Homo sapiens: one gene and its partners. The protein of the gene in region 2 purifies or fractionates together with the protein of the main gene of each other region. This does not show direct contact. Each region holds a gene or a part of one and is shown on either strand. Other genes may lie near its edges. The genes, in order: CCDC86, ATP1A1, NDRG2, DHX15, DDX21, TSPAN5 and DDX27.

Evidence for each region.
Region 1: the proteins of ATP1A1 (region 2) and CCDC86 purify together in Homo sapiens (affinity purification with mass spectrometry, with the first as the bait; one large-scale study listed by BioGRID). This does not show direct contact.
Region 3: the proteins of ATP1A1 (region 2) and NDRG2 purify together in Homo sapiens (affinity purification with mass spectrometry; one large-scale study listed by BioGRID and IntAct). This does not show direct contact.
Region 4: the proteins of ATP1A1 (region 2) and DHX15 purify together in Homo sapiens (affinity purification with mass spectrometry, with the first as the bait; one large-scale study listed by BioGRID). This does not show direct contact.
Region 5: the proteins of ATP1A1 (region 2) and DDX21 purify together in Homo sapiens (affinity purification with mass spectrometry, with the first as the bait; one large-scale study listed by BioGRID). This does not show direct contact.
Region 6: the proteins of ATP1A1 (region 2) and TSPAN5 purify together in Homo sapiens (co-immunoprecipitation; one large-scale study listed by IntAct). This does not show direct contact.
Region 7: the proteins of ATP1A1 (region 2) and DDX27 purify together in Homo sapiens (affinity purification with mass spectrometry, with the first as the bait; one large-scale study listed by BioGRID). This does not show direct contact.

What each region holds. Positions count from the first base shown.
Region 1 is NC_000011.10:60,845,113-60,848,346, forward strand, and holds part of CCDC86 (coiled-coil domain-containing protein 86), read left to right. Parts: intron 1-2,811; coding exon 2,812-2,941; intron 2,942-3,234.
Region 2 is NC_000001.11:116,400,744-116,404,243, reverse strand, and holds part of ATP1A1 (sodium/potassium-transporting ATPase subunit alpha-1), read right to left. Parts: intron 3,384-3,500; coding exon 3,238-3,383; exon of another isoform or gene 3,115-3,237; coding exon 2,984-3,114; intron 2,691-2,983; coding exon 2,589-2,690; intron 361-2,588; coding exon 269-360; intron 1-268. UniProt on the Homo sapiens protein: This is the catalytic component of the active enzyme, which catalyzes the hydrolysis of ATP coupled with the exchange of sodium and potassium ions across the plasma membrane.
Region 3 is NC_000014.9:21,019,167-21,022,061, reverse strand, and holds part of NDRG2 (protein NDRG2), read left to right. Parts: intron 1-182; coding exon 183-245; intron 246-1,217; coding exon 1,218-1,278; intron 1,279-1,479; coding exon 1,480-1,566; intron 1,567-2,085; coding exon 2,086-2,142; intron 2,143-2,319; coding exon 2,320-2,423; intron 2,424-2,895. UniProt on the Homo sapiens protein: Contributes to the regulation of the Wnt signaling pathway. Down-regulates CTNNB1-mediated transcriptional activation of target genes, such as CCND1, and may thereby act as tumor suppressor. May be involved in dendritic cell and neuron differentiation.
Region 4 is NC_000004.12:24,543,055-24,546,554, reverse strand, and holds part of DHX15 (ATP-dependent RNA helicase DHX15), read left to right. Parts: intron 1-3,500.
Region 5 is NC_000010.11:68,959,170-68,962,669, reverse strand, and holds part of DDX21 (nucleolar RNA helicase 2), read right to left. Parts: intron 2,865-3,500; coding exon 2,421-2,864; intron 589-2,420; coding exon 513-588; intron 1-512.
Region 6 is NC_000004.12:98,648,612-98,652,111, forward strand, and holds part of TSPAN5 (tetraspanin-5), read right to left. Parts: intron 1-3,500. UniProt on the Homo sapiens protein: Part of TspanC8 subgroup, composed of 6 members that interact with the transmembrane metalloprotease ADAM10.
Region 7 is NC_000020.11:49,239,916-49,243,415, forward strand, and holds part of DDX27 (probable ATP-dependent RNA helicase DDX27), read left to right. Parts: intron 1-1,977; coding exon 1,978-2,072; intron 2,073-2,167; coding exon 2,168-2,291; intron 2,292-2,678; coding exon 2,679-2,766; intron 2,767-3,500. UniProt on the Homo sapiens protein: Probable ATP-dependent RNA helicase. Component of the nucleolar ribosomal RNA (rRNA) processing machinery that regulates 3' end formation of ribosomal 47S rRNA.

The DNA of each region.
Region 1 (3,234 bases), on a different chromosome or scaffold from region 2:
GGAAACAGTATCCAGGCAACAGGAAAGGGATGTTCAGAGGTATTGAGGCGGGAGCAAGCTCCCGTTTGAGAGGCTTTCCAGAGGTCTCGCTGCTGGAATGAGGGGGAGAAGGGGAACAGTAGGAGATGAGGTCAGAGAGACAGCAGGACCTGGTGACCCTTACAGGGACTCCCGGCTTTCCTGAGTGAGCTTGGGAGCCATGGAAGGGTGTCAAGCAAAGGAATGAAATGACCTGACTTGTGAGATCAGCCTGGCTACTGAACACAGACATAGGCGGGCAGGGGTGAAGGCAGGAAAACCCACAAGGAGGCTGTCTCAAGAGAACTAAAACAGCTTCCGAAGCTGCAGGCAAGTCTGTGGCGAGGGGCCCAGCAGGGCCACTGAATGGATGTTTGGGATCTTTGAGGGAGCAGCTTCGGTGGGTAGTAAGTGAGCCTGGAGATGGGTGGGAAGCAGCTCCTGCTGCAGGGAGGAAGACAGCCGCAGCTGGGAAAGTGTATGTGGTGAGGGAGACCTGGCTGCAGCCCTGTCTTCGTGCTCATGCCAAACGCCACTTTCTCCATAGTGCCCTTGGGCATGCTGTCTGCCTTCTCTGAGGAGTAGCATTTATGGAGCACCTATTACGTGTGTGTGTCGATTAAATCTCCCACCACCCTTTGGGTTAGGAATGATTCTCATCTCCACTGGACAGGATGCTGAGACTTAGAGAGGCTACCTTGCTCCAGGTCACCCAGGTTGGACTTGGAACCCAGGCCTGAGTTTCCTCAATACCCAGGTAGAACCAATGGTCTGGAACTGCCCTGCCTCAGTACCTTAGCCGCCAGCCACATGTGGCTATGTACATTTAAATTAATTAAAATTAAATAAAATTTAAGATTCAGTTTCTCTATCAACACCAACCACATTTCTAGCGCTCAGCAGCCACCCATGACTAGTGGCTACCTTATTGGACAGTGTCAATGTGGAATGTTTCCACCATCACAGAACGTTCTGTTTGACAGCCCTGCTCTACACAGATGCAGCACTGTGTCTTGTGGTTCTGTGTGTCTCTAGGCTCCCAACACCTTGTCCCTTCAGGGTTCTCGTACCCCAGCTTGGGAAGCCCAGCTTTACAGTTATGGGGGAAGTCCATGTGGCACCCCATTCTTAGTGCTTAGGAGGCCAGGCCTTCAGTGGCAAGGCCTTGGGAAGGGGAGAAGGAAATCAGGGAGCTGGGGCCAGAAGTCGGCAGGGCCAAGGGACACCAAAATGGGCCTTGAATCTTTAAAAGAGAAAGACCTAATTTCAGCATGTGGAGGCCACCGAGAGACTTCTTTGCATTTTGTTTTTACTTTTTTTGAATGGAAATTTTCAAGCATACAAAGAAAGAGCAAAGCTCTCAAGTCCCCATTATCAGCATCAACACAGCTCAGCATTTTACTAGTGTAGCTTCATCTTTGATACTTGGCTTTTTTTTCTTTTTTTCTTTTTTTTTGTTTTGAGACGGAGTTTCATTCTTGTTGCCCAGGCCAGAGTGCAATGGAGCAATCTCGGCTCACCGCAACCTCCGCCTCCTGGGTTCAAGCGATTCTCCTGCCTCAGCCTCCCAAGTAGCTGGGATTACAGGTGTGTGCCACCACACCCAGCTAATTTTGTATTTTTAGTAGAGACAGGGTTTCTCCATGTTGGTCAAGCTGGTCTCGAACTCCCGACCTTAGGTGATCGGCCCACCTCAGCCTCCCAAAGTGCTGGGATTACAGGCGTGAGCCACTGCGCCCGGCTGATCTTTGGCATTTTTTTTTCCCTGAAATATTTTAAAGTACATCCTAGACATATCATCCCATTCATAAATCCTTGTAGTATGCATTTTTACAGAGATGAGCTCAGTTCTCCTGTAACTCTAAAATCATCGTTGCTCTTTTCAGATTTCCCTGAGAGCCCTGATGCCCACTTCATCTCCAACTGGGGGAAGAGATTCTTTTTCTTTTTTCTTTTTTCTTTTTTTTTTTTGAGACAGAGTCTTGCTCTGTCACCCAGGCTGGAGTGCAGTGGCGCGATCTCGGCTCACTGCAACCTCCACCTCCCAGGTTCAAGCAATTGTTGTACCTCAGCCTCCCAAGTAGCTGGGACTATAGGCATACACCATCACACCCAGCTAATTTTTGTATTTTTAGTAGAAACTTTAGTAGGTTTTAGTAGGCTTAGTAGGTTTTGCCATGTTTGCCCGGCTGGTCTCCAACTCCTGGACTCACGTGGTCTGCCCACCTTGGCCTCCCAAAGTGCTGGGATTACAAGCATGACCACTGCATCCGGTCTTGGCGGGGAAGATCCTGAATCATTACCCAGAACTTTAACCACTCACACTGTTCTGAAATGGAATGGGCCACCTCCCTAGGGGGTGAGCGCCCCGCCTCCAGAGGCATTCACACCCGGGCCAAATGCACTTGGCGGAAGCAACAGAACTTTACAGCAGGGGCCGCGTAGCCTGGACTCTGCAGTCGCTGACAGGATTCAAGTCCTGACTGCCACAAGGTATCTTTAGGCAGCTATTTAACCTCTCCGCGCCTTGGCCTGCTCCTCTGTAAGTGGAGAGGATAGGAGTACCCACCTCAGAGGCATGTAGCCAAGGCTTGAGAAATGGCAGCCAGCACGATCAGGGTTCCCTCCCGCCCCAAGTTTCTGCAGCCCTGGAAGGCCGCCTGTCAGGCCAGCAAGGAGGTGGTTCTGCCTGGGCTCTGGGGAAGAAGGTCCAGAGCCTCCGGCCGAGAGGAGACAGGGCATGGGTGGCGCTTGCCCCACAGACCCTGTATGCACCCACTCTCCCCCTTTCAGATTCTCCCAGATGCTTCAGGACAAGCCCCTGCGCACATCGTGGCAGCGGAAGATGAAGGAACGACAGGAGAGGAAGCTGGCCAAGGACTTTGCCCGTCACCTGGAGGAGGAGAAGGAGAGGCGCCGCCAGGTGAGGGGCCAGCCAGGCTGAGGCTGGGGCTCAGAGGACTAAGCTAGTGTCTACTGGTACAGACCTGAGGCGAGGGCCTCCACGGGTGCCTGGGGGAGGCCGACTTGGTTAAAAAACGTTCTTGAATCTGAAGGCCGGAGGGAGGAAGGGCACCTGGCCAGAAGCAGAAGTGCAATCTGGGACTACAGGGCAGGGAGGCCCAGGGGACCATACAGTTTAGCCTGGGCTGCTGAAAGAGCCTCAGGGACAGGGACGGAGGGGGAGGACCAGAAGCGGGCCTTGGGGAGAAGCCC
Region 2 (3,500 bases):
TTACCTGGAAAGATGGTTTAGATTCTGACAAGTTTTCACTAAATCATACTTGGTTTGTATTTTAAAGTCTAAAACATGACCAGTCCTCAAACTGTAACTGAGATCTACATTCTGAAGATGTGACTATGGTCAGTTTGCTGGTCCAGTCACCTTAGCTAATCAGACTGACCACTGAGGGAGCCTAGACACCTTGAGGGAAACAAAAAACCAATAGAACTATAGCCCCTCCCACTCCTCCTCCAACCAAAGTCAGAATGCCCATAATTACCGCCAGGGCGTCGCCTGATGATGAGTTTTCTGACTTCGTCATATACGAAGATGAGAAGAGAGTAGGGGAAGGCACAGAACCACCAGGTAGGTCTGGAAATAGAGTAAGGTACCAATTTATATGCACACGAACACAGTTCAAATAAAGAAAGAGAAATTGCACATCACCAGTGACAATGAAATAATCAGCCTGAAAGGAGAAGCCAAGTACAGTCACAGTTAACTACTGAGTCATTAACAGAACAAATAAAAATGTCTTAAAACAGATTGCTACTCCATGTGCCCAGGGCCTAGAGACGCAGAGGAAATCAGTCTGCAGACTTTGTAATGGAATCCCTACTCATCTTCAGTTTGGATTTCATAAGACTTGGTTTATAGGATGAGCAGAGTACTTTTCTGTTAACCATCCCAGAGCAACTGAACATTTTCTTTCTTTCATTTCTAAAGTGTTTAAGAAGCTTTTTAAGACCATCTGCCTAATATCCCAGCATTTTGAAGATAAAGACCTGCCAGTGTGGGTCAAAACCAGTTTATGCATTCCCCAAATTTGATCTCTGACAACAGCATTTGGGATATCAGCTCTGTGTTCTGAGGCCTGGTCCTGGGGACTGAAAAAAGCTGAGCCCGAAGGCTTCCAAGGGGCCTGGAGGCTGAGCCACACAGTCTCTAGCCTGCTGACAGGCTCCAGGCAGCCTCCGTGATCACCAGCTCCCTGCTATGGTGTGAGAAAGGCTGTCCCTGGGCAGGACTCCGGTGGTCTCCTCTTCTTCCTGTGTGTCTGACAAGGCAGCTAAGAGAGATGATCTCATTTGACTCAGTCACCGAATAACTGAACCACCTTCCAAAATTGGGCAGAACCTGTCAGAACAATCTCTTTGGTGGTGGCAAAAAAACCAGGGAAGGACCCAGAAGATGGAAATGCCCCCTTTTCAGTGTAATTTTCCACCAGCCTTTTTGGAAAGCTCTGTGACCTCTCCAAGCCCCATCTTGATACATAATGGCCCAAGCTGACAGAATTCAATTTGGAGATGGCTGGCCCCTGCTGTACACCAGCTTTGTGTAGGGAGCTGGGGATGCACAGAGAAGAAAGACACTGTGGCCCATGCCTTCTAGATTAAAACCTAGCAGGGAGGTGAAATGACAAGCAACAAGTAATGCCAGAGAAGAGGTGCAAGTGCACAGGCCCTGGAGGGACAAGCTCCAAGGAAACCGGCCCTGAAGGGACTATCAGGATTGGCAGGGTAAGAGGGAACAGAAGGAGGGATGTGGGGAGGAAGGATCTTACCAAACACAAAGGCAGAGGAAGAAAGCCGAATTCACCTAACATGAGCTTGGATGGGTAAGGGGTACAAGAGAAAGCTATAAAGACAGGTTGGGACAATGAGACTGACTCTGGATGCCAGTCTCATCTTGCACCACAGACGATGTCTGCACATAACCCACAGGAAGTGAATGAGGCTGATGGGTTTTGGTTACTTTAGGGATAAGATGAGCTGAAGGAAGTGCTGGCAACAGGGGATTGAGAGATGGTCCAGACGGGTCTGAGCAAGGATGAGGACAGCAGGAATTCAAAGGAGACTAATGCTTTAAATCAAAAGCTTCAAAGGAACTTGTAAATGGGTCCCACAATCTGTGGCTTTGCACGTTTTAATCAAGTTGCAGTTGCTTAACCTCAACCAGGTATCACCAAACATACTCAATGTTGCAAAAAACTAACGGAGTTTGTGATAAACCCTCTTTGAAAATTCAAGTTTATCTGAAATGCAGAGTCATTCACTGTGTTTAAGGCCAAAGACTAGCAGTATGCTTCCTTTGATCAACTCTACCCATGACTGATTATAAAGTAAAAGGGACCTCAGATCTGTTTCTCCAACCTTCTTTCTTTGAGAGCAGAGTATTCAGAGTCTCAGAAAGGTGGATGACTTGTAATGGGACAGTGACTAAGCAAGCAAATCAAGATTTGAGCCTGGGCGCCTACGCTCCAGCATACCCCCAGTTGGCCTCTAAAGACAACTGGACTACAGCTGTGGCAGACCTGAGTGCTCAATGCAGTTCGCTGTTGAGCAGTTCCATGGAGCTAGAGCCTGTGTGGCTTTATCTTATCTTGGGCCAAATCCTAAACACTAGCTGCTATCATGGAAGCCTCAGGATTTGTTAGTCTGATTTACTGACATGTCAAGCTTTCACAGTTTTCCAACCCATAGGAATTTTTGTACATACCACTCAAAATTCTGAAAATAACAACTATTACCACAAGTAATGGGGGGAAAAGCCACACATACTATTTCATACTTTTTGGAGCTACCAGAGGATCAACTTACTTGAGGGGATACATCCTAAGAGCAACACCCATTCCAGGGCAGTAGGAAAGGAAAGCAGCCAGGGCTGTCTCTTCAAAGAGGCCAAATATCAAGATCTTGTTCCTAAAATCAAAGTAGGGGAGAAAAAACTTAAAAGGTGCAAATAAAGGTTTATCTTCTAATGCTATGCATTAAAATGGCAGATCAACATCTTTATGTATTAGCTGTACTTGAAAACTTGGAGGTCAGATGAAAAAACTAGAAAGCTACATTTCTTGCTTCCTAAATTTGCTCTATAAACTAGAGATTCCAGAAACCTGGCTATATGTGTCATATGTTTAGTTTTTGGCAAAGGGTTTACAAATCACCAGTCCCCTTCTTTGAGCCAAGGCCTTGACATGTCCTTCATTACTTACTTCATCCCCTGCTGGAAGACCGAATTCCTCCTGGTCTTACAGATGACCAAGTCGGCCCACTGCACCACCACGATACTGACGAAGAAGGCTGTGTGGCAGGTGAACTCCACGATTTTCCTCTGCTCATAGGTCTGAAATGCAGAAGACAGAAGATGAGCTCTGGCTCTTCACCTGCATGGCTGGTGGCAGTGTGGCCTCAGTCTTCTGGGGCTTGAGGAGCTCTGACACTGGTCAGGTCAGAGGTGCCCACTCACCCACTGCTGCCCGTAGCTGTCTTCCACATCGTTGATCCAGCGGTCATCCCAGTCCACTCGGAGGCCCAACAGGTGAATTGGGAGGAAGCCGTTCTCAGCCAGAATCACAAAGTAAGTAAAGAAGCCTCCCAGGGCCTGGATCATTCCTAAGTTGGGAAAACAACCCAATTACTAGAACCTCACACACAAGGGTACCTGTATAGCCTTCAGCTGATTACTGCAGCAGGCCTGGGAGAGCACATATGGAGGAGTGTTTCCCCCTG
Region 3 (2,895 bases), on a different chromosome or scaffold from region 2:
GTAAGAGTTAGGTCGTTACTGCTTCACCAGACTGTGAGGAACAGGACAGGTGCGGGAAAGGTTCGACTGGGGAGGAGGAAAGGGAGGGCAGTGGTTATTCTGGGAGAGAATGAGTAGGACATCCTGAGGTGGGGGGTGTGAGGGCAGGTTGGTATCTTCCTTAACATGCCTCTCTTTTCCAGATATCAGTACCCATCTCTGGACCAGCTTGCAGACATGATCCCTTGCGTCCTGCAGTACCTAAAGTGAGAGGCCTGGGAACCCCTCCAAACCAGAGTTCTCTTTCCAGCACAAGGAGACCCTTAGAACTTCCAGGTTCACCGTGGTTCCTGAGCCAGTTTCAGCTTCTGAACTCAATATATCTTCTTCCTTCATGCTCCCGCCTTGATTATTGAGAAAAGGTGGTGGGTTTGGAAAATTGGCCAGAGTCAACAGAATAGCCCTAATGGGTGGAGGGAAGGAAAAGGGTCTATGCTTGGCCCTGCCTCAGGCTAAGGAGGGCCTTCTCTGATCAGAAAGTCAGGGAGGAATGAAAGGGGGTGACATAATCCCTGAGGAACCAGATAGACCTGTCTCTTTCTCTCCCACTCCCCTCTCCTTCATGCCCACACCTGGTGGATGGGGAGCTCTGCGGGTGAGAGAGAGTTGGGGAAGGAAGAGAACACCAGACCAAGTGTCTTTGGTATTCAGAGGGAGGTGCTGGCCCCTGGGTGCTGTTCTTAGCTAAGCTTCTCCTAGGCACCAGGGCTCAGCAGCTCTGGTTCACCACTTTGCCACTCTTTTCCTCATTCTCTCCATTGTTCACTAAAATTGTGTCTGTTTTCACATTTGCTTTAAGTTCCATTCTTCCCGTTCCTCTAGAGGAACCAGGAACTAAAGCAGAACAAGTTGAACTGGCTCTTGAAAATTGAGAATGGACAAAGAGCTATCTATATGGGAAAACAGTGTGTTGGTTGGCTGGTGGATGGGTGTTTGTTTTTAAGACACTAGCTCTCCAGCAGAAAGCTGGGGATAGACTTCAGGTATCTACCCTGACTACCCGTGCCAACCTTTGGCTTCTTGGGCCCTTCTTTTTCGCGTCCTCCAAAGAAAGGTCCGTGTCTGCCTTTCTTTGTGCCCGTGGACTCAGGAGGGAGGGTGAAGAGTTTGAAGAGATGGGCTGTGGCAGGTTTTGGACAGCAGATCCCATGAGGCGTATATTTCTTTCCCTTTCACAGTTTCTCTACAATAATTGGAGTTGGTGTTGGAGCTGGAGCCTACATCCTGGCGAGATATGCTGTAAGAAATAAAAAGCCCAGAGGAGGGAAAGGAGGGTCCAGACTGATTAGGAGAATACTGTTTATTAGTGCTGTTTGGGGGAGGAAGTGGGCACTAGGTGGGGAGTCAGGCCCTGTGGGAGTCCAGGAGTGGGTCGAGCTTAGCGGGGAGGGGATAAGGCCATGCCCTGTTTCTCATTTCCTTCCTTCTGCTGTCCCTCAGCTTAACCACCCGGACACTGTTGAAGGTCTTGTCCTCATCAACATTGATCCCAATGCCAAGGGTTGGATGGATTGGGCAGCCCACAAGGTTTGGAGGGGCCTGTGTGCTGAGACCTACGGTTGGGGATCCCCTCGTATGGATCCAGTTAGGCTCTGGTAGATAGCCTAACTGGATGGACTCTGAACTTCAAGGAGGGAGTAAAGGGGCAGGAAAGTGAAGCTGTCACTTTGCCTGAGTCTCTTATAATATCCTGAACTTTCTTTTTCTTTTTCTTTTTTTTTTTTTTTTTGAGATGGTGTCTCACTCTGTTGCCAAGGCTGGAGTGCAGTGGCTTGATCTTGGCTCACTGCAACCTCTGCTTCCTGGGTTCAAGTGATTCTCCTGCCTCAGCCTCCCAAGTAGCTGGGATTACAGGCACCCGCCACCACGCCTGGCTAATATTTGTATTATTAGTAGAGATGGGGTTTCACCATCTTGGCCAGGGTGGTCTTGAACTCCTGACCTCGTGATCCACCCGCCTCGGCCTCCCAAAGTGCTGGGATTACAGACGTGAGCCACTGTGCCTGGCCAATACCCTGAACTTTCTCACCTGCCTTCTCCTCATAGCTAACAGGCCTCACCTCTTCCATTCCGGAGATGATCCTTGGACATCTTTTCAGCCAGGTAAGTGGGTGTAGGAGATGTAGAAGAGTCGACGGGAGCAGCAGGGAACTTGAATGCTTGGGCTAACTTCCTTAGCTGGGACAGGATTTGGGGAAGGAAGAAGGCTTACCTCTTTTCCTCCAGTAATTGTTGTTTTCTCTTTCCATCCCTAATTTTTCTCCTTGTTCTCTCCTTCAGGAAGAGCTCTCTGGAAATTCTGAGTTGATACAAAAGTACAGAAATATCATTACACATGCACCCAACCTGGATAACATTGAATTGTACTGGAACAGCTACAACAAGTGGGTGGGCTGTGTGTGTATGCATGTGAGAGAAATGCAGAAGCAGTAATTGGGCGTCATGGGGGAGGCACAGAGGAGGAGAGGGAAGTCTGGGTAGTGTGCAATGTGCAAGGAATGCAGCATTTAGTGTGCAATGGGGGCAGCTTCAGGACAGAGTCAGTGGGAAGGATTGCAAGGGGCTGTCCCCCTTCTCTTGTTTACCTCCTTTGGATTATTGGACTCCCAGAAGTAAGATGATCTTGTGTCCTGTGTCCTTCCTCCCCTTTTGTTGCCCTCTGACCAGGGATCTAGGGCACAAGTGACTATAGGGGCTGTGCTTGGGGCCTGCCTGCCCCTTTCTCCTTTGGTTTCCACCTTTAATAACCAAGATTTGACCGTAATTTTTAGACAAAGATAGTTCCATCATGGGAGAGATAGCTTATATCTGGTTAGATAGCATTGCCCACCTAAAATTCCTACTCTTTTAACCCCT
Region 4 (3,500 bases), on a different chromosome or scaffold from region 2:
AAGTTTATTCAAGTATTTGACTAAGTTAAAAGTTACAGTAATTCTTTACATGCATTCAAGTTTACTCTTCAGTAGATAACTTCTGCATTTTTTGACTGAGACTTAAAATTGCTATTTTGTGGATTTGGTTGTTATTAAAATACAACTATAATTATTTTTTAAATATTTAGTGTTCATTAATTTTGTTCATACAAATAGCTGACTTTTCTATAGTTGATCCTACATTTCGCTGATTAATATGGTTCAGAGCATACATTGCTCAGTGAAAAAGAGAAATGGCCCTTGTGGAGATGGTCCTGTAGTTTTAAAGAAAGACTTAATGATCCAGGATCTGAAGATAGCTTACTGTGGTGCTGCTGGGATGTTTATAAGCAAATAAGTTGATGTCCTTGTGTTGGAGACCACCACAGAGTTCCCTGGGGACTAAAAGTCCAAATTAGTTTAAATGCATTATTGTGTCCAGACAGTATTCAGGTAGGGCAAATGAAGTACTGCGAGTTCTACTTTGAAGTGGAGTTATTGGGGGCGGAGTGGGGGGAAGTGGTTCTATTAGAAAAAAAGTGAGTTCTATTAGAAGGCAGGTTATTGAGGGAGGAAAATTTACTCTTAGCATGTCCTGACAGTGATGCCAAGCTTTTCACCATAGGGTCTGTTCCATATTAGTCAATGCGGTTTGAACACTTTTTAAGGCTCTTTGAACGCTTACTGCAGTGTTGCAGTCTAGAAAGCATGTAACAATTATATTGATTCTTACTGGTCATAATGTAAATCCCTTGACAAATTCAAGGTCATTTTGTCTCCTGATGGGTTCCTGGTTGTATGGTGTGCCATTTACAATTAGAACATGGTTAGGGCTTGCCTCACTCAACTGCTGAAGTACCAAAGAAGCTTTTATCTTGTCATTTATTAGTTCGCTTTTGCATTGTGTGTGTGTGTATTTAGCCTTAGCTATTTTTAGTCCTTGAGAAAGGCCTAAAACTTGTGCTTTTTTGTTAAGGACTCAATTTAACACTTGTATTTTAGGGTTTGACTTTTGGCTGGCAATAGGCTCTTACTAATATCAATAATGACGAGGGTTTGCCAAGTTGGCATAAATCATTTGATTCTTAAACACTTGCAGAATCATGTATCCGCGAATTGTTAAGTATTACAGAATTTAATACACTCACCCAGACAAAAAACATACACACAGGATGAAATTATTTTGTGGAGAAAAATTAACTTTTTATAATGGTAACTAAAGAGTTGGTCACATGAGAAATTTTTATCACATTGTATTATGTTATAGAAGAAATATGTGAAATGTATTTTTTCCCAGAACAACTTTTTTAAAAGTGATTTTCTTCATAAATATTTTCAGAACTATGGTTTTCACCCCAGAATTCCAGAAAGCCAGAAGACGTCTTCTGTATTTACAGGCATGTAGTTGGTTCTGTATAGATTTGAGATAGGGTCTCAGTCTGTTGCCTAGGGTGGAGTTCTGTGCCATGATCATAGCTCACTGCAACCTGAACCTCCTGGACTCAAGCAGTCCTCCCACCTTAGCCTCCTCGGTAGCTGGGACTACAAGCATGTGCCACCATGCCTGGCTAATTTCTTTTATTTTTTTGTAGAGGTGGGGTTTTACTATGTTGTCCAGGCTTGTCTCAAACTCCTGGACTCAAATAATCCTCCTTGGCCTTTTTAAGTGCTGGGATTACGGATGTGAGCCACCATGCCTGGCCTATTCTGTATAGTTTATAGAGCATTTCCACATCCTTACATAATTTATTCCCTACAACCCTGTGTTATGTAGACTAAGTAATATGCAAGTTATAAAAGGAATACAAGCTTGGGGGTGTTAAAACCTTTCCAGTTACTTTAGCCACTCAGGTTTGATTGCTAGGTCTGCCAGTTACCTCTAAATTCATCGCTTCTTTAACTACAAGAAACTGACTTTCTAGAATATTAAATGCCGGTTATGCTTATTCAAGTTTCACCTGTTAACCTTATGTATGTCGTTGTTTGCTTCAGTTCTAGTTGCTGATTATTTTTCTAAATGTCCTGAAGAATGTATTTCAGCAACATCATCAAACCACATGTGGTTTCTTATTCCTTTGCTAGTTGTCAGTCTTTTCAACTGACAAAAGGAAACATTTTGGTTTTTGACTTGTAAATTATTCTGAAATACCCTCTTGGTAGATTGCTATTATGTTTTTAAATCCCTGAGGTTTCCTGTTAGTATTTTGGGAAGTCTACTACTTAGTAAATATGAAATCAGAAAATGAAAGTGTTAATATTAAGTAAAATAGTTAATGCAGCAAAAGCCTATGATTTTTAAAGCTATTTGATTTATAAAATTAAGTGTTTTTAAAATAAAATAGGGATAAATATAAATCTTTTCATTTTTTGTATGTGCCCATAGGCATTTCTCCCACATGTGTTTTTTTAAGATGGAACTTTAGTGCTAGTGCTGTTTCCTTCTCTCATGAGTAGGTCTTAACCTTACCGTCAAGGACTGTCCTAAATGCTATTATTTTTCAGTAAAGCTTTTCTTGACTTTGCTATGGAAGTAAACCTTTTTAAATTTCACAGTGTGTCTTTGGTGCCACTCACACTTTCTATCCATGTCTAATCATCCCTTACAAATGGTAAAAGCAGACTCTGTTTGATTCATCTTCTGTATCAATTGCTTGCATATACAGACATCTTCAACTTAATATCAGTAACCTGTTCCTGAAAATCATGTCCTGAGTTAAAATACTAATGAGGAATCCCCATTTCCCATTGTTTAAAAAAAAATTATATGTAACATGTATTTCCCAAGTCCTTAACTAATTTTCTAAAACATATGTAATATATAGTAAAACATGCACGTATACCAAACAAGCTATCATATTAGTATGTAAATGCTTTAAACATTTTCCGTCAATAAAGAATTATAGTTCTTAACAGTTGCTTTGTATGTAGTAACGTATTACATGTCATCCCGTTGAGACCATGCACTTACCGAAATATTTACATTTGATTCTGCTGATCTGTCCATTCTTACTGGATTATAACTTGAGTTTTTTTCCATGTGGCATTTTGTTTAAAATGTTGAGTTGAATTTTGGTGATATAAATAACGAAGTTTTCATTTGTAAATATTGCCCAAAAACATTGAAATATACACTTGTGGAAATTTGAATACTAATTATAAGGGCTGTTTTATCAGACGTTTTGTAAGGCACGTTATATTGCTTCATCAGTATTTTTCTTTTTATGCTGTCCATTAATTTGATTAAGCAAAATGTAATGCGGTTGAGTGATAACCTGAAGTAATAGCTTTGTTGAGAAAGAAGTTGCTGTTGTGGTGTAAACAAAATTTTGGTTCCTTAAATATTAATTTACCTTTTTAAAGCATTGGCCATTGAAGATCAAATGATATTTCTAGTTTATTTGCTGGCTTGAAATTCCTTGTGTCAGTGAAAGTTAGTGGCTGATCTTTAACAGTCCTGTTAATTTTATTTGATATGTAAT
Region 5 (3,500 bases), on a different chromosome or scaffold from region 2:
CACCATTAGTCAATACACTTCTGAATACACACTGTATTAAATACAATTTTTTTTGAGACAGGGTTTCATTCTGTCACCCAGGCTGGCGTGCAGTGGTGTGACCACAGTTCACTGAAGCCTTGAACTCCTGGGCTCAAGCGATCTTCCTTCCTCAGCCTCTGGAGTAGTTAGGACTATAGATGTGTGTTACCACGTGCCCAGCTAATTTTTAAACTTTTTGTCGGGACAGGTTCTCACTATGTTACCCAGGAAGATCTCAAACTCCTGGCCTCAATCAATTACAGGTGTGAGCCACCACAGAGGGCCTGAAAAAGCTTTAACCACTTGTTTAAGAAGCATGAAGAACCATCACTACTATAGTACTAAATTGAATACACAGGCCTACTTCATTATATGACTGCATATATCAGCCTACAATAAGAATACATCCTGGTTCATCTTAACAAAAATAGTGGAGTGCTTCTGTTAAAATAATACGTTCTAACATCATACGATATTTCCAAGAACATTACCTTTGAGAAGTTTAATAGTTTCTTCAGATATGGGAAAATTAGAGAAAGCGCCTTCTTTTTGTTCCACAGGTATTTCCTATCAAGTAAAGGGCCATAGAAAGAAATCAATAATCACCTACACAAATTAATAGAGAACCTTCTGAGAAAGAGACAAAACAAGCTATCCTAAAGCAATTCTTCTAAACACATCACTTTAAAAATCAACCAAAAAGATACAAAAACCTTGATAGGTAACTCGAGATCTGAAAAGGAAACATTGTCATAAATCTATAAAACTTTAACAAAAGAAAAATCTGAGGCAAATATATACTGGGTAACTAGATCTCAACTAAGATCTCAACTAAGATTATGTGTGACTAGATCTCAACTAAGATCTACTCCATAACCATAATCAACAATATACTGATGGAAATGTCATTAGCCCTCTTCCAAAGCAGCATCTCTTGTATACACACATCCATAGAAAATGAACAAACATTTTATGAGGTAGCAGTCACTGTGGCATTATTTGATAGTAAGATATCTGAATGCTCAATACAAGTAGTAAGTAGATTTCAAGACATTTATATGAAGGATTATGTAACCATTAAGCGTACTTAACGAGGAAAATGCTTAGCTAGAAACAAAAAAGATACAAGATTGCACAGTACAATCCTAATCTGATTAAAAATAATAGATGCATATACTAAAAGTACTACAAGGAAACACCAAAAATTAACAAGATGACTTCTGTACTTGAAAAGTACAGGTATTAATATTTACTAAATGAATGGTGAAATTCCAGGAAGCATTTCTTTCTTTTTGCAAAATGTCTGCATTTTCTATTTTCTCTGGATCACATATTTTTTATAATCAGGAAAAAAGTTACAAATGTTGACCATGATCTATAGCAAAAAGAAAATCTATTAGAATTAGTATTTTTCAGCTGGGTGTGGTGGCTTGTGCCTGTAATCCCAGCTACTCGGGAGGCTTAGGCGGGATTATCGCTTGAAGCCACAAGTTCTAGACCAGCCTGGGCCACACAGCGAGATCCCATGTCTAAAACAAATTTTTTTAATACAATTCGTATTTCTTTCATAACTGAGTTTCTGAAAGATAACAGAATTAGGTTCTGGACAGACATTTTATCATCCTGTTCAACTCCAGGATGATTACTTAATGGCCTAACCAAAAGGACTTATGCAATCAACCTTTTCAGTAATTCCAATAATTTATTTGGTTAAACCCCTCAGAGGGAAACTAGGGCCCATTTACAAAACTGTATCTCTTCTGTTGACTGACTTGCAAATAAGCAGACCAAGACTCTCCCTAAGCTTAAGCAGTATCTGCTTATTTGTAAAGGAGGCATTGTGACACTATGCTAATTTTTTTTTTTTTTTTTTTAAAGACAGAGTCCGCTGGGAACAGTAGCTCATGCCTGTAATCCCAACACTTTGGGAGGCCCAGGCGGGCAGATCACCTGGGGTTGGGAGTTCGAGACCAGCCTGGCCAACATGGTGAAAGCCCGCCTCTACTAAAAATACAAAAAATTAGCCAGGCGTGATAGCACACACCCGTAATCCCACCTACTGAGGAGGCTAAGGTAGGAGAATCACTTGAACCCAGGAGGCAGAGGTTGCAGTGAGCTGAGATCGTGCCACTGTACTCCAGCCTAGGTGACAGAGCGAGACTCTGTCTCAAAAAAATAAAAAAATAAAAAAGACAGAGTACTCTTAGCTGAGCCACCATGCCCTGTCGTATGCTAATTTTTAAGATGAAGTCCCAGTCAGCCTAAGGTATCCCCCAACCCACAAGGTGCTGACACATCACATTTTCTCCTACTATTAAAGAGTACATATAGCAGTTACCTACTTATTTATCTGAAACAACAATGAAAGATATCTTCTACCCAATGAAGTGCAAATGTACCTGCTCTATCTCACTGTTACTTTCTTCACTGGCAGCTTCACTGGGGTTACAGTCCGGTTCAGGATGAGGAAATCCATTCTTCAGTTTGGGGCTTTTCTCTCTAGTTTCTCCATTCATTTCCTTTTCTTTCTTCATCTTCTTGGGCTTAGGAGCATCTATTTCTTCCTCAGAAGGCTCCTCATTTTTTGTCACTTTTTTGGTTTTAGAAGAAACCACTTTCTTTTCAATGGGCTCCTTTTTCTTTCTCAAACTTTTGGTTTTAGGAGAAATGTCATTTTGAGATGGCTCCTCTTTCTTTTTTGCCTTTTTGGATTTAGGAGAATTCATGTCAACTTCAGAAGGCTCTGCTTTCTTTTTAACTTGTTTAGCTTTGGGGAAAACAGTTTCTTCCTCTTCTGCTATCTCTTCAGTCTTATCAGATTTTGGCTTCTCTTTTTTCTCTTTCTAAAAAAAATTCATAAGGAAAATACAAACACTGAATAAGGCATTTATACATTTGCAACATTCATCAATTCTGGATTATTTCAAGATCATTTTCAACTTTAAAAAATACAATTTTGGGGCATTTCGACATTTGTACTTTCATGCTGTGATAAGGTAAAAATCAAAATAGTAAGCTTTTTCTAAAATCGCTTCTTAGCTATATATATAGACGGGTATATATCAATAGTTTCACTATCTTGGAAAATGAAGAGTGCCCCTTAGTAACTATTCAACTCATGTGGGTCAAACAGTTGTAAAACAGATTTTCTTTTTTGAGACAGAGTCTCGCTCTGTCGCCCAGGCTGTAGTGAAGTGGCACAATCTCAGCTCACTGAAACCTCCACTCCTGAGTTCAAGTTATTCTCATGCCTCAGCCTCCCGAGTACCTGGGACTACAGGCGCCCACCACCACACCCAGCGAATTTTTGTATTTTTAGTAGAGGTGGGGTTTTCCCATGTTGCCCAGGCTGGTCTCAAACTCCTGAGCTCAGGCAACCCACCCACTCCGGCCTCCCAAACTGCTAGGATTACATGAGCCACCGTGCTTGGCCTATAAACCAGATTTTCATAAGGGATTTGGATAAGCTCATGGGATAC
Region 6 (3,500 bases), on a different chromosome or scaffold from region 2:
ACTGGCGTTTTTGGATTAATAAAAAATTCCATGAGGGATAAAATAGGCCACCTTTTTTTTCTCGTAAGCAAAGAACACTAGCTTCATGTGCTGGTGAAATGGTCACCGCTCTACACCACCCACGCCCAGCTCTCCCACACATCCCCTCCAGGGAGCAACGGGAAGGAGAGGCCACATCTTCCCAAGAAAAACAAGCTAAAGCTTCTCAAACTCAGCTGGGCATCACAATGACCTGCAGGAAGTTTTGATTTTTTTCTTAACAGAAATTCCAGGACCCCATCCTGGATGGACCTACTGAACCAGATCTCCCAGTGGGAAGACTGAAATTTCCTTACTAATCAGGCTGCCACACTACATGCATAAAGGGGTGAAATATCAACTAATCCTACAGAAGTGACCCCTAGTTAGTGAGAGGGACTTCCCATGCATGGAGAGATTCCAAGAGATAAAAACCCACACGAGGAGTAATTTTTTTAAAAATGTACTTTGGCCATCAAGATTCAAAGACATCTAAAGGCTAGAATACTGGTTCTTTTCTTTCTTAAGTGGTGGGACCCCTTTTTTCAAGCAAAATCTTTCTTAGTATCCCAAAATATCAAACTAATAACCAAGCTTTTCTGGAGGAAAGAGAGGTACTGCTCAGTCCACACCCCACCAGCACAGACCCACCCACCCACATACGCCTCAAGGAGGCCTAGGATTGCTGGTAGCAGGTTTGAAATCCAATGGGCCAGAATAAGACATTTAAATGGGAGAAATAAACAGAACTAAATCTAAATTCAAATAATTAACTGGAGGGTTAGGGCTTCTGATTAGCATATAGCTTAGGGGGATGGTTTAATAGAGTTCACTTGAAAAAGTGAAGGTTTTATTTCACTAAAAAGTCAATCCAAGCCAAAGTGTTCGTTGGCTGCCAGGGAAAGCAAGTGCAGTTTAGCCTGGGTTAATAACTAGTATTTGTATTTAGAGATTTACCATTTATGAAGCACGTTGATATGCATGATCTCACATAATACTGGATAACAACTTTGCAGAAAATTATTTTCCTGGTTTTTTTAGATGAGCAACTGAGGAACTAATCTGTGAAAGTAACTTACTCAAAGTCAATTCCAGACAGTAGCAGAGGCTTCTGCCACCAGGCACAGCACAGCCTAGGGACTGAAGGGAGAGTTCAAGAGCCTGCTGCTCTTCGGATGGTTAGAAAAGCCTGTGAACAACGTGTTTCATTCTGGTTGCTGCATTAATAGAGGTGTGTCCAAATGGGACCCTAGGCAGAGCACCGTGACCAGGGCAAAGAACAATCTGGAAACAGTATATGTAGACCTAACACTCTAAAACCGAACCCTGACATGCTCTTCAACATCTCAAAAGTTACTCCACATCTCTGTACTCCAATTTCTTCATCTGTCACAAAGATATAATATGTTTGGAAGACTCTTTGAGATGCTTACAAGAAAAACATCATTAGTGTAAACACATGGAGGAACTAGGAGCTTTTAAAGGTGGAAAACAGAATGTTTAGGAATGACATAATGGCTATTTTTAAATAATGAAGGACCATGGGGAAGGAAGATAAGTCTTATTTTACATCATTCAAGAGTAGCCGAGGCTCTTCGCCTTCTCCTTCCTGAAAATTCAAAGCCATTAGGTAGGTCCAATCTGGTAGGCTTCCTACGTTTACAAAAACGTAGGAAGAGGGATGCTGTGGAAGCCCAGAGCAGGGTATCTCAGGGAGAAAGGTATCCATATGGGGATGGGGGTGGTGGCACAGGATGCTAGAGCACTAACAGCTGAGGAGGGCAGCCCCAGGAGGAAAGGTGGTGGCAGCTGCAGAAGATTGGTTACATATGGGGAGATTTACCAAATAAGTAAACTGTTAAGAATAATGCGAACCAAGAATCTCACTGTCAAATAAAGCAGTTATAAAATATGGAGAGGAAAAACTAAACCCTGTGGTATCAGACAGGAATTTAAGGTATGACTGTAAACTCATGGTTTTAAAAGTACATAGATACAGAATTACAGATGTACATGTGTGTCTGTATATACACAGAGTAGCAACACCCTAATAGCAATGAGCACACCAAGCAACCAGATCTTGGCTTCTAAATTCCATTCTCCATTCAATAGCTCCTTGGAGAAATGTCTGATACAAAAGATGACACAGGTAAATCACAAAATGAGTTTGGAACATCTTATTCTGCCAGAGAGCAAGATGGTGCTCAAAGACTGATGGGAGTTAAAAGAGCACAGGAGCCAATGTGAAAAGACTGCACTGGCCAAACCTAGGGCCATTTTAAATAAAGTAATGACAGTAACATTAAACCACACTGAAAAAAGGAAGACACTAAGTTCTTACTGATATAAATAAATAACAGATTGAAAATTTGATGAGGAATAGGCTATTTACATGGTTTCAATGTAATTTGCCATAAAACATTTATAAATTACAAATGAGAAAAGAGTAACTATATGGTAGAGAAGCCTGGCAGACAACACCTTGATCAAGTGACCATCATCAGTAATGGGACAAACAGAAATCAATGCCACCCTGATAGGGTACAATGAGAACGCAGCACCATTTCTGTACTATTCCTACCAAAGATGCACAGCCTGAATCTAAGCTTGTGAAAATGGCACAAACACAAACTGAGGGACATTCTGCAAAATAACTGGCTTATAATTGTCAAAAGTATCAAGAGCATGATAGTGAAGGACTGAAAGAGACTAAAAACATGTAACTAAATACAAAGTGTGGTTCTGACCTGAATTCTTTTGCTTTAAAACATTATGGGAGCAACTGGGAAACTTGGATGAAATCTAAGGATTAAATGGTGTTAATGTATCATTGGTAATTTCCTGGCTTTCATGGTTGTACTGTGGTGATCTAGGAGAATAGTCCAGTTTACAGAAAATACATACTCAACTGTTTGTGTGATAGCCAACATGCTGGCAACTTTGTCTCAAACAGGATAAAAACAGGTTCTCTATACTACTTGCAATTTTCCTATTGGTTTAATGTTTCCAAATAAAAATTTTAAATGAACAGTAAATTAGGAGGATGGAAATGATGGGGAGACAGATAACATCTAGTTTGAACAGATGAAACTCTACAATTAAAGTGGTCCAAAAACAGATCCATGCTTAGAAAGGTAGGCACGATACAATGGAGAATGCTTCACTGACTAGGAAGTTAGAGGAGATGATTCCTACGTACTTTCTGATGATTTTGTAATTCTTTCCTTCAACATACTTTTTTTTTTTTTTTTTTTTTTTTTTGAGACAGGGTCTTGTTCTGTCACCCTGGAGTGCAGTTGCAGCCTCAACCTCCCAGGCTCAAGTGATCCTCCCACCTCAGCCTCCCAAGTGGCTGGGACTACAGGCACGCATCACCACACCCAGCTAATTTTTAATTTTTAATTTTTTTTTGTAGAGATAGGGTCTCACTATGTTACCCAGGCTGGTCTCAAACTCTTGGGCACAAGCCATCCTCCAGCCTC
Region 7 (3,500 bases), on a different chromosome or scaffold from region 2:
AAGGATGAACCTTGAAAATCTTAAGCTGAATGAAATAATCCAGACACAAAGGGACAAATACTGTCTGATTTCACTTACCTGAGATATCTAGCTAGGCAAATTCACAGAGACAGAAATAGATTATAGATTACTTAGGGCTAGGGGAAGGGGGGTTATAGGAAATTATTAGTGGTTGCAGAGCTTCTGTTTTCAATGATGTCAGTGAGTAGCCTCCTGATAGGAGTTTTGGAAACAGATAGTGGTGATGGTTGTACAATGTTGTGAATGTAAGTAATGCCACTGAATTGTATACTTAAGATTGGGTAAAATGGCAGCCTTTGTTTTATATGTGTATATATAACCACAATAAAAATAATTTTAAAAAAGTTAGGAGATATTTAATACAGATTTCCTCTCCATCTCCCTTTAAAAAAGACCCAAAACACTTATAAGTTCACATTGTTCTATGCCTCGCCTTTTCACTTAATTTTGAAGCTTAGAGATATGTTTTATATAGGCCCACATATGCTGCCCTTTTTGTTTTTTGTTTTCAGACGGAGTCTTGCTCTGTCACTGAGGCTGGAGTGCAGTGGCGCAATCTCGGCTCACTGCAAGCTCTGCCTCCTGGGTTCACCCCATTCTCCTGCCTCAGCCTCCTGAGTAGCTGGGACTACAGGTGCCTGCCACCGCACCTGGGTAATTTTTTGTATTTTTAGTAGAGATGGGATTTCACCGTGTTAGCCAGGATGGTCTCGATCTCCTGACCTCGTGATCCGCCTGCCTTGGCCTCCCAAAGTGCTGGGATTACAGGTGTGAGCCACTGCACTCGGCCCCCTTTTTGTTTTTTTTAATGGCTTCATGTTCTTCCATCATATGAGTAGATTGTTGAGGGACATTGAGGTTGTTTACAATCATTTGTCATCCAGCCTGGGCAGCATGGCAAAACCCCATCTCTACTAAAAATCAAAAAATTAGCCAGACATGGTGGTGCATGCCTATAGTCCAACTACTTGAGAGGCTGAGGTAGGAGGATCACCTGAGCCTGGGGAGGTCAAGGTTGCAGTGAGCTAAGATTCTGCCACTGAACTGCAGCCTGGGCGGCAGAATGAGACCCCGACTCAAACCACCACCACCAACAACAAAAAACCCAAAAAATAATCATTTGTCATTACAAACAAGTGATGTAGGGAATAACCTTGCACATATGCCCTTTTACAATTAAGCAAGTGTATATTTGGCTTGCAGGATTAATTCCTAAAAGTGGAATAGTGGGTCAGAGGATATTTGTATTTCTAGTTTTGTTAGAGGTTGCAAAATTTCCCTCCTAGAGGGTATACCAGCAGTTTTAGAAATGCTGTCTATATTTGATGGGACAAAATAAGGGTGTATATAACTTAAATTTCTGATAAAAATAGAGTTATAACTGTATTGGTGGGTAAAGTAGTAAAGTGACCTAAATCTTCATCCTTCATAGCAGGAGGTTTGTAATGAGTATCTTAAGTGGATTGAGAAATAGTCAAAAAAGCATGTTATTTAGTGAGATGGAGGTAATCAGTGGAAGAAGTGCTTGCGGCTTTTCTTTTCTTTTTTTTTTTTGAGGCAGGGTCTCGCTCTGTCGCCCAGGCTGGAGTGCAGTGGCGCGATCTCAGCTCACTGCAGCCTCCCCTTCCTAAGTTCAAGCAATTCTCTCACCTCAGCCTCCCAAGTAGCTGGGATTACAGGTGCACCACCATGCCCAGCTAATTTTTGTATTTTTAGTAGTCGGGGTTTCACCATGTTGGCCATGCTGATCCCAAACTCCTGACCTCAGGTGATCCACCCACCTCAGCCTCCCAAAGTGCTGAGACTACAGGCACGAGCTACTGCACTCGGCCAAGAAGTGCTTGCCGCTTTTCATTTTAATCTGCTAACTTACCAATTGAAAACGTGCACTTCTTATCGTAAGCTTAAAAAAAGATAAAATCATCCCTGAAATCTTATGCTTTCTTCTCATCCCAGTTGCCAAAGCTCTGCAGGAATTTGACTTGGCCTTAAGAGGAAAGAAGAAAAGGAAGAAGTTTATGAAGGATGCCAAAAAAAAGGGGGAGATGACAGTGAGTGGCCTCCCTTTTGGAGTTTGGGCCCACTCGGTGGGGTGGGTCAGAGTGGCCTGGTGTGTTCCACACTCACACCTCCCCACTCCCCCTAGGCAGAGGAAAGGTCTCAGTTTGAAATCCTCAAGGCGCAGATGTTTGCTGAACGGCTAGCGAAGAGGAATCGCAGAGCCAAGCGGGCCCGAGCAATGCCCGAGGAGGAGCCAGTGAGAGGTCCTGGTAGGTGAATGGGGAGCCCAAAGGAGCTTGTACAAGGTTTTCCCTGAAACCTGTGCTTTGGGTCAGGGAGAAAATCTGAGGGATGATGACAGTAGCCCACATTATTTGAGTAATTAGTATGTACCAATGTGTACAGCTATCCCTCCACGGTCTAAGGGGCGCAGTGACCTTGTGGTTGTTGAGAACTAGGATTTGAACGCCAGCTTTTCTGACTCCGGAGCCTAAGGCCTCACCAGCTGCTACTTGGAGGAGCTGGTGAGGACAGAATGAAAATAGTCTTTGGATGCCAGAGTATCCACTGAACTTGGAATCATTACCTTGAACTTAAGGGGATTTAGGAGCTTGGGCCAAAGACAACCATATGTAACCCATTCTCTCTGTGCACAGCCAAGAAGCAAAAGCAGGGGAAGAAATCTGTATTTGATGAAGAACTCACCAACACAAGCAAGAAGGCCCTGAAACAGTATCGAGCTGGGTAGGATTTTAAGTCATCATGGAGCCCTTGGTATTCTTTTTTTTTTTTTTTTTTTTTTTGAGACGGAGTCTCGCTCTGTCGCCCAGGGTGGAGTGCAGTGGTGCATCTTAGCTCACTGCAAGCTCCACCTCCTGGGTTCAAGCAATTCTCCTGCCTCAGTCTCCCAAGAAGCTGGGACTATAGGCGCACGCCACCATGCCCAACTAATTTTTGTATTTTTAGTAGAGATGGGGTTTCACCATGTTTGCCAGGATGGTCTCGATCTCTTGACCTCCTGATCCACCCGCCTCAGCCTCCCAAAGTGCTGGGATTACAGGCTTGAGCCACCGTGCCCGGCGAGCCCTTGGTATTCTAATGGAAGCTATGAGTCTTCTGCCTCCTTCCCCATTTCCAGTTTTTGCACACCTATAGCTTTATACTATGTAAATTCAAGGGTACCTGTCTGTTCTCCACCCCCCACCCCTCTCAGAGCCACCTGAGGATCCCAAGGTGAGAACAGGAGAGGGGTGTTCAGTTAGCACTGTTCCTGCCTTGGAGGTGAAATAGTACATTGTTGGGTTCAGAAATGGAGCTTTCCTTCAGGGGAGTGATAACTCTTTCATCTCAAGTTCCATCCTGCAGAACCCCAGAGAATCCTGGCTTGCTCTTAGGAATATGTTGTCCCACACCATTTTCCCCAGCCCAAGGTTGGGGCAGGGGCAGACTAAGCTTCCCAAGTAGTGGTATATACCTAA